Homo sapiens: one gene and its partners. The protein of the gene in region 1 interacts with the protein of each later gene in a pairwise test. Each region holds a gene or a part of one and is shown on either strand. Other genes may lie near its edges. The genes, in order: THY1, HTR6 and ATXN7.

The links.
Region 2: the proteins of THY1 (region 1) and HTR6 interact in a two-hybrid assay, tested with the Homo sapiens proteins (one large-scale study listed by BioGRID and IntAct).
Region 3: the proteins of THY1 (region 1) and ATXN7 interact in a two-hybrid assay, tested with the Homo sapiens proteins (one study listed by BioGRID).

What each region holds. Positions count from the first base shown.
Region 1 is NC_000011.10:119,414,830-119,417,581, forward strand, and holds the end of THY1 (thy-1 membrane glycoprotein isoform 1 preproprotein), read right to left. Parts: 3' UTR 647-2,752; downstream 1-646. UniProt on the Homo sapiens protein: May play a role in cell-cell or cell-ligand interactions during synaptogenesis and other events in the brain.
Region 2 is NC_000001.11:19,678,032-19,681,480, reverse strand, and holds the end of HTR6 (5-hydroxytryptamine receptor 6), read right to left. Parts: intron 2,915-3,449; coding exon 2,756-2,914; intron 2,563-2,755; coding exon 2,113-2,562; 3' UTR 515-2,112; downstream 1-514. UniProt on the Homo sapiens protein: G-protein coupled receptor for 5-hydroxytryptamine (serotonin), a biogenic hormone that functions as a neurotransmitter, a hormone and a mitogen. Also has a high affinity for tricyclic psychotropic drugs.
Region 3 is NC_000003.12:63,866,862-63,870,514, reverse strand, and holds part of ATXN7 (ataxin-7), read right to left. Parts: exon of another isoform or gene 3,602-3,653; intron 1-3,601. UniProt on the Homo sapiens protein: Acts as a component of the SAGA (aka STAGA) transcription coactivator-HAT complex. Mediates the interaction of SAGA complex with the CRX and is involved in CRX-dependent gene activation.

The DNA of each region.
Region 1 (2,752 bases):
ATTGGACTGTGGACCCCTTCAGTTAGGGGCTTGTGTCTTTTATAGCTTAGCACAGAGCCAGGTGCATTTAGATGCTTAATGTTTGTTGTACAAATACATGATTTCAGCCCAGTCAGCTTATTTTAAGAATTATTGTTTTTATTATTTTTTTGAGACAAGGTCTCACAGTGTTGCTTAGGCTGGCCTCAAACTTCTGGGCTCAAGGGGGGCCTCCCATCTCAGCTTCTCAAGAAGTTGGGATTACAGGTGGCTGCCACTGCACCAAGCTCTAATCCTTTTTTTTTTTTTTTGAGACTGAATCTCACTCTGCCACCCAGGCTGGAGTGCAGTGGCATGATCTCGGCCCACAACCTCCGCCTCCTGGGTTCAAGTGATTCTCCTGCCTCAGCCTCCCAAGTAGCTGGGATTACAGCCGTGCACCACCACACCTGGCTAATTTTTATTTATTTACTTATTTTTTTTTTTTAGTAGAGACAGGGTTTCTGCATGTTGGCCAGGATGGTCTCAAACTCCTGACCTCAAGTGATCCACCTGCCTTGGCCTCCCAAAGTGCTGGGATTACAGGCGTGAGTCACCACACTCTAATTTTAAGACTTACTGAAGTGAAACCCTAAAGGGGGAAGAGGCTAGAGTCCTCTAGTCCATGTTCTCACCAAATTCAGGAAACTGCTTTATTGCAAACTTGACAGGTGGCCTCCACCTGGCCACGCCACTGCCAGGCACTCCCCGCCTGCACTGCTGGGCACCTCCAGCCATCACAGCCCCTTCCTGGTGCAGAGCCACACTTGGCCTCCATGAAGCTGCCACATTGGTCCTACCCACCCTCCATATGATGTGTCTACATCTACAGGTCCCACTGACCCCAGCTCTTCCTTGTGCCGGGCAAAGATGCCTCCTGTGGGTCTGCACAGGACATGTTTCTCCTTGAGTGTGTTGGGGACATTCCAGGCCTGAGAGTGTCCTGAGGCTGAGAGCCCCTGTTGAGCAGAAGAGAGCTGATGGCCCTCTTGCCTGGCCAGGACTCTCTGAAGGACTCCAGCTCCAACATTTTCTCACTAGTAAATGAGATGATTTACTCTTGACTTGGGTTTGTTTGTTTCACATGTAAAGACACCTTCACAGCACGAAAGCTGCAGATTCAGAGAGGGACATCAGGTTGAGGAGGCGGGAGGGATGTGTGTCACAGGTCCCCGGACGCTGTGTAGATTTCTTGGTTGGCCAGTGAAAGTCCCCACATCTCACGGAGATCCCCATGCCCTTCCCGAGGAAGCCTCTAGATGTCAGAGATGCAGACATTGCGCGTCTCAGTGGACAATCCAGTCCAGAAATGGGGGTGCAGAGAGGGGCTTCTGTTGCTCTTGAGCGGGAATTCCACGGCCCTAGGTATGGACTTAGGTGCTGAAGGGGGGGGACCCAGGAAAGAGGTTAGGACTGGCGAGGGAGTGGATGGGGATGGGGTTGGGGCATGTGTACAGGAACCAGGGCTGGGGGCCAGCCCTCTATAATTACCTGAGTCACCACAGATACCCCACAGCCTCCACAAGGCCTGCTGACTTGACCAGGGAGGGACCCACGGCTGTCGCGGCCTGTGGCTGAAAGTCTGCGGGCTCCCAGTCCTCAGCATGGTCATTCCGGGTAGGTTTATTTTATTTTTTATTTTTTTGAGATGGAGTCTCACTCTATCTCCCAGGCTGGAGTGCAGTGGTGCAATCTTGGCTCACTGCAACCTCCGCCTCCCGGGTTCAAGTGATTCTCCTGCCTCAGCCTCCTGAGTAGCTGGGATTACAGGCGCAGGCCACCATGCCTGGCTAATTTTTGTATTTTTAGTAGAGATAGGGTTTCGAGGCTAGTCTCGAACTCCTGACCTCAAGCGATCCGCCTCTTCCCAAAGTGGTGGGATTACAGGCATGAGCCACTGTGCCCATCTCTGGGTAGGTTTGCGTTGTGAGGCCTGATGCCCTGTTCTTCTCTTCTCCTTTCCGAAGTCCGTGGCCCTCTGGTGGCCTCTGTGGCTTCTTGAGCTAATCTCACCCACTGTGGGCCTCAGGTTCCGCTCCCCTAAACATGGCTGCAGAGGGCAACACCATCTCCCAGCACCCTTCTAAGAGTGTGGCTGCTAAACTCTTCAGGGACATAGTACTAGAGTGTGACAAAGACCCCATAGGAAGTGTCACACAGGTGCGAGGCTTCACACAGTGCCGCTCATTTCCTTCCAGAAATACCTCCATACTCTTTTACTATCCTGAGGGTGGGGCACCCCACATTTCTCTGGCATTTGATCTCCCTTCCCCCACAGCAGCTCTTCTCACCAAGATGCCTTTCCTTGGCACGGCGCTTGCAGCCCAAGCAGGGCTGAAGGAGAGGGGCCTGAGTCTCAGGGGTGTTCCTCCCCTTGGAGAGCTCTGGGCTGGCAGCATCTTGCTAAGGGGTTGTCAGCCTCCCAACCTGGGACAAGGACAGCTCCTCCTCCTCTGTGTATGGTAACTACAGGGGTGGAAGGCAAGGCAGAGAAGTTGACGGGAGGTAGCAAGAGTGGGAGCCGGTGGCATAATTTAGATCTGAGGCCTTTAAGAAAAATGCTCAGAAACAATCATCCTACCCAGTGCTAAATATCAGATGAGTCAGCCTCTGGGCAGCTGTCACCTTCCTCCCCCAAATTCCCTGGCAAAGCAGGGAGGCTGGCTTGGGGCTGCCTCTCTGACTCTGACAGCAGTTGGAACCCACAGCTACCCTGCGGTCCCCCTCTTGCCCC
Region 2 (3,449 bases), on another chromosome or scaffold:
ACCAGGCTAGAGTGCAATGGCATGATCTCAGCTCACTGCAACCTCCACCTGCCAGGTTCAAGGGATTCTCCTGCCTCAGCCTCCTGAGTAGCTGGGATTAAGGCACTTGCCACCACGCCTAGCTAATTTTTTGTATTTTTAGTAGAGATGGGGTTTCACCATATTGGCCATACTGGTCTCCAACTCCTGACCTCAGATGATCCACCCACCTCAGCCTTCCAAAGTGCTGGGATTACAGGCATGAGCCACCATGCCCAGCCAACTCCAACTCTTAAAACACAAAATTTAAAAACAAGTATTTATGCAACTCTTGTTGCTTTTAAACTAAGCTGCTCATGTCATACATGGGAAATGGAGGCTCTGAAAGGGGAAAGGATTTTTCTGGGGTCCCAGATTGAAGGGGCAGAATCTGGACCAGAACCCAGGACACCTACACCCAGGCCTCCCCACGACACCAGCTGCTTCTCAAGCCCCGAGTGGCCCCTCAGTTGAATCCAGTCCACACCACAGCCACTGCCTTCAGCTAGAGTTTATTGAGAGTCCCCTTGGGCAGACCTGGGGGATAGGGGAAGCCCCGCAAGCACCATGGCCCCTCAGAGGCCAGCCGCCGGGGCCAGAGTTGTGTCTCATCAGCACCAAGGAGAGGGCCAGGCCAGGCATGGAGGACCCCCTGGGAGTTTGTGTTGATGGAACTTGGGGGAGGCAGGGCTGAAAAGGGACCTATGGCAGGTAAACTGGCGACCAAGAGTTCCCCAACCCCCTGCCCCCAGAAACCAAGGCCCCTGTGCCAGAGTCCACCTGCCTGCCTCGTGGGCCCCACCTCACACCAGGAACAGCTCTTTGACTCTACTCTGCTGACCCAAGTAGCTACCATTCCCATTTCTCTCACTGACCCCAGGGAAGGCCAGAGGCAGGTGGGCAAGGGGCTGGGTTTATCCCCATCAGTTGTTCCCTTCTAGGTCCAAGGACCCCCCAGGATTGAGGAAAACCAGTTCTGAGGCTGAAAAAGAAACTGCCACCTGCCCCTTTTGCCCCCAGGAAAGGCAGGGCAGCAGCTTGGGAGCTGGGAGGGTCCCTGAGAGATGGGGTCCCCACCCAGGAGCCAGAACAGGGAGTTGGGGAACCAGAGTCAGGCTTTGGGAGGCTAGGCCAGGGCTGAAGAGGGGGAGGCAAATGGAAAGAGAACAACGGGAGCAAAGAGCCCTTCCTGACACACAGCCGGAGAGGCCAGGGGGCTGGATAGCCGGGGGTCGTAACAACAGAACGTACCAATTAACTGACCGTGTACTGGGTGCTGGGCACACATTGTCTTAATTCTCAAGACAACCTGCAAGATAGGCATCATTTCTCTACCTTACACATGGGATAACCGAGGCTCGGAGAGGTTAAATAACTCGTGTCAGGCCCCAGAGCTCATAGGTGGTAGAGCAGAGGCCCACATGCATGCCTGCCTGCCTCCCAGGTGCAGCTGCTGCCACATATATACCAGGGAGGGGAGACTGACAGGTCCAAAAACCATCCAGCAAATCATTCTGAGGGTTAAAGATGATCTAAGGCAGCACATCTCAAACTGTAATGGGCACATGATTCACCTGGGATCTTGGTAACATGCAGTTCTGACTCAGCAGGTCTGGGCAGGGGCAGAGATGTGCATTTTTCACAAACTCCCAAAGGTGACGGCAATGCCGATTGTCCATGGACTACACTGTGAGTAGCAAGGGGTTCAGCCCAGCATTAATCCATGCCTGCAGGTGGGGGCATTCCCTCCCGTCCAGCCTGACAGAATGGGCAAAGGTCATGATTGTTTTCATCCTAACCTGAACCAAGAGGTCCTTCTCCCCAACATCCAGAGTCCTCCAGCCCATCCTCTGCACACACAAGTTACACTCAACAGTGGAGCATCCTTCAGAACACGATATCTGAGTCAGCTATGATCCCTGCAGGTAAGGGGCCTGGAGATGGCAGCAGGGGGTCAGCTCTGCGCACCCCTCTGGAGCTCAGAGGGCTTCTAGGAGACTTGCAGCCTCCTGGTCTTAGCCAAGAGCTGGCCCAAGGACTCAGGGTCTGGGTTCTGCTCAATCCAGCTCCCCATTGGCCAGCCCCAAGCCCGGGTCAGTTCGTGGGGATGCCAAGTGGATGCGGCCGCAGCTCGGGCTCCGCGGGGTCGATGTTGAAGAAATTGACGGCGGCAGCGGCCCTGGTGGGCAGCGGGGGGTCCTGGGTGGCCTCGCCAGGAAGCAGCAGCTGGGCCGTGAGCCGCAGGCCCGAGGAGCCGCCTGAGCCTGCGTCTGAGTCCGAATCTGAGTCCGGCGGCAGGGGCAGCGGCAGCACCTGCTGTAGGCTAAGGCCGGGCCGGGGGCCGCTGTGAGAGGTGCGCAGTGATGGCGAGGCCAGGCTGGCCTGGCGCTCCCGGGGACAGCGTGGACATGGCAGGAACCTGCCCAGCGCCCGCTTGAAGTCCCGCATGAAGAGTGGGTAGATGATGGGGTTCATGGTGCTGTTACAGTAACCCAGCCATGTGAGGACATCGAAGAGGCCTGGGGAGATGCAGTCGCACACGGCCTGGGGGGAGGGGATGCATCATGCCTGGTCCCAGGGCAGGGACCCAGGCCACCCTTCCCAGCATGTATGGAGCAGACACACACACACACGCACCACGAGAGGCAGCCTACCCTCCCCTGTCCCCATGCCTGGGCTGGGATCCAGGGCCTCTCCTGCAAGGGCCGGACTCACCTGCCCCCTGCCGTGGCATTACCTGGACTATGTTGGCCACAAAGAAGGGCAACCAGGTCACAAAGAACATGCCCAGCAGGATGCCCAGCGTCAGGCTGGCCTTCAGGGCCTTCCTGCTGTGCTTCGTGGCTAGACGCCTGCTGTCAGCAGACTCCACCCCTGGGCGTGGGGTCCTGGGCACCTGCGGAAAGGAAGGCCACATGAGTCCGTTGAGAAAGGGCCCCCGTCTGACCCTGATCCTAGCCACAGACTGAGCTTCAATCCTAATTCTAGACTGAGCCCTAGTGCCAGGATTAAACTGGGCCCTGTTCCTTGACTGAGTCCCAACTAGAGTCCTAGACTGAGCCCTGACCCTGACTCCAGGCCAAGCCCTGACATCAGCAATAAACCAAGCCCTGACCTTGGCCCCCCACTGAACCCTGACACCTACCATAAAGCCCTACATAACCAAGTTCTCAAACCAAGCCTCAACTGTGGACCTAGACTGAGCTCTGATCCTGGTCCCACACTGAGCCCTGACCCTGACCCAGAATTTCATAAGGAGCTCTAGGAAGTGCAGTGAGACAGAGCAATACCTGAAACACAAATCAGATGGTTCAGAAGAACAACCATCCCTGCAAAGACAATACGTGACACAGGCCAACACACACATTACAATGAGCCCAGCACCTTCCAAAGCCTTTAGCGCTACAGAAATCAATTGCAATTGACTGGGC
Region 3 (3,653 bases), on another chromosome or scaffold:
TGACTGAAGTTTCATCCTATCCAAAGAGATGAGGCATTAGATCAAACTGCCATACCAAAAGCAGAGTATGCTAAATAAAACAGCAGTGTGTGAGCACACACACACATACGTGTGTGTGCACATGTTGGGGGTGGTTGCTTGGCAATGCCACAAATCTATGCATCTAATATTCTAGGCAAGGATTCTGCAAATTATGGCCCATGGACCAAATCTAGCTAAGATTTGTATATAACAGGAGCTAAGAATGACTTTCACATTTTTAAATGGTTGAAAAAATAAAATATGACGTGACACATAAAAATTGCATGAAATTCAAATGTCAGTGTTCATCAACATTTCTTGGAACACAGTCATACCCATTCATTTATATCTATGAGTGTTTTCCTGCTATCATGGCAGAGCTGAGTAGGTGTAGAGACCTGGATGGCTGGCAAAGTAAACAATATTTACTATATGGTCCTTTACAGAAAATTTGCTGATCTCTGTTCCAGGCTATAAAATCACACAGTTGTTTGATGGATCACAGCTCCAAACCTGTGCAGGCTTGTTGGTTTGGCCCCTGACATATCCAAGATTTTGATATAACCTGCCAGGCCAATAGAGAATGCAACCCCATTGGCTAAGAACAATGGAGAAGTCCAATAGGTCATCAAGATGTTGGGATACCTGCCTATCATAACAAGAAAATGTAAAAGGCTTTTCTGAGTTGAAAGTAAGATGGTTCCAGAAGGTCTAAGTGGGAATAAGGATGAATAAAGGTATTCTCTTTAAAAGGATGTATAGTATCTCTAGCAGGGTGCGGTAGCTCACAGCTGTAATCCCAGCACTTTGGGAGGCCGAGGCAGGTGGATCACCTGAGGTCAGGAGCTCAGGATCAGCCTGGCCAGCATGGCGAAACCCCATCTCTACTAAAAATACAAAAATGAGCTGGGCGTAGTGGCACATGCCTGTAATCCCAGCTACTAGGGAGGCTGAGGCACGAGAATAGCTTGAACCCTGGGAGGCAGGAGTTGCAGTGAGCCAAGATCATGCCACTGCACTCCAGCCTTGGCAACAATGAGCCTCTGTCTCAAAAAAAAACAAAAAGAAAAGAAAAGAAAAAGATGTATGATATCTCCTTCTAAAGATGAGAATGTAACTGTCTTCAAAATGGCTACCACTTTCTGAGTACTTACTAGGAGCCTAGGAGTAAGCAAAACTTTTTTGCATTTATTATCCCATTTAATGGTCATCTCCTCTAGACTCAAAGAAGGAGACTGGACCAAGTTGAACACAACCAGAGAGCTCAGGAAATGAGAATCAAGGCCATATTCAAAGCCTAAAGGCTGTGTTCATAACCATTTCCCAACCCAAGGGCAGAAAGCATAAATGATCACCACGAATAAATGACAGGAAAGGTTAAGACTATAGAAATAGTAGAAGCAAGTTTATTTTTATGGCCATAAGCATTATACAGTATTTTATTTACGTATCTCACACTTTCTTTTGACTCATAATGCCCTCTCTTACTTCAGCATTTAAAGTAAAATATGATTCAGTCCTGCCAGACCCTTTCCTATTGACAAAAATCAACACAGGTACCCAACTGTGAAGGCATTTTAAAGACAGCAGAATTAGACAACTAAAGTTATAAGTGTAACTTCCACCCATGAAGTCCCTGGGTTACCTGTGAAGGTCTCAAAACGAAAGGAGTGCTGAAGCACTTTTAGGGGTGATGGACTATAAAGTACATGTGCAGTATTTTAGTTTTTTAATTCAGATTATAAGTGAAGAGAAAATGTTAAATGGAATCTTGCCCACAGAGAGAAATATAATGCTGGTGGGTGGCTATCATTTCTTCCTGCCCAGCAGCATCCATGTCCTCCCCTCTGCCAAATAAACCATCATTTTCCACTTTCCTCTAAATATCTATATTTGGGGACCACTCAATCCTAACTCATTTTTGAAAATCTTTTTCTTAAAAAACAATGTTTTAAGTGTTAATATCTTCATCACACCAATTTGGAAATAATGTACTTATTATCCTATACCATGAATATACATGTTTCCTCAGATGTTTATTAATGGTTCCCCAAACCTGGCTTGTAAGTCCTTCTTGCGGGCCAAAGAGGAGCTAAGACTTTTATACGGGAAACTTCTAGCTAGCCTCCCAACAACTCTACTAGTTAGCCATATCCAGATGAGTAACTGAAGAGTCAAGCAGGGTAAGTAGCTACAGTGAATAAAGGAAACCAAATTTGAATTTTAAGTCTATTTTGACTCAAACTGTGTTTTTCCCATCATGTTCTACTGTCCTGCCAAGGCACAAACACATTTTCTTACAATGATTCCCTTTGAGTCAAATTTCAAATTTTCTGGAGAGAAGAGAGTGGAGCTGAAAGACCCATTTACTCCAACGGCTGGTGTCAAGATCAAATCTTTGCTTATCTACCATCAAACGATCTGGTCTGAATTTTTAGATATAATTTTTTAAAAACACAGCCACAGTACATGCAGGACTAGCACGTCAGACCAGCTTGGCTTATCAACTGATAGGCAATGCTTTGTTGTGGGAATAAAATGGAAGTGCTTTTACACCTCTAAGTCTGAAGACAACTTTATTTATTTATTTGTTTGTTATTTATTTATTTATTTCAGTGTCTTACTCTGTTGCCCAGGCTAGAGTGTAGTGATCTCGGCTCACTGCAACCTCAGCCTCCTGGGTTCAAGTGATTCTCCTGCCTCAGCCTCCTGAGTAGCTGGGATTACAGGCCACACCACCACGCCTAGATAATTTTTTTTGTATTTTTGGTAGAGATGGGGTTTCACCATGTTGGCCAGGCTGCTCTTGAATTTCTGACCTCAAATGATCCACCCGCCTCGGCCTACCTCAAATGATCCACCCGCCTTGGCCTCTCAAAGTGCTGGGATTACAGGCATAAGCCACTGTGCCCAGCCTGAAGATAACTTTAAAAGGCAAGTAACGAGCACACAGATCTACTTTTCAAAAATGTTTTTTTCTCTTTAGAATGGTCATTCTGTGATGGCTCATGACTGTAATCCCAGCACTCTGGGAGGCTGTGGCAGGAGGATCACTTGAGCCCAGGAGGTCAAGGATGCAGTGAGCCAGTTTCATGCAATTGCATTCCAGACTGGGCAACAAAGTGAGACCCTGTTTCAAAAGAAAAAGGAAAAAAGAAGAAAGAAAAGAAAAGAATTCTAACTTCCATTTTATTCAATAAAAAGATGTGTCTCTAATTTTTTTAAGTCCTGGATCTCTTTTCTAAAACAACTACAGACCCTCTTCCAGAAAAATACACATACACAAAAAGTTCTGGTCACAACTACAGGGAGTTCAGGAATCCCTTGAAACCAACCCTTGGAGGGTCACAGACCCCCAGGATAACTCTTGCTCTAAAAGCATAGTACAAAATTCCTTACATTATTTCACAGACCCAGAATAAAGACCATATATAGCTAGCTCTCTCATAATTTTTTATATTTTCAGAAAGCAAATATCAAATAAACACACAAATTTTCTTAACTAGTCTTTCATATTCTCAAAAAAAAAAAAACCCAGAAATCTTATGACTCAAATAAATCAATAAATATAAGGTCATACAAGTTCAAAGTCTGAATCAGTTTTCTTAAAATCTGCTACTTCCATTTCTGTG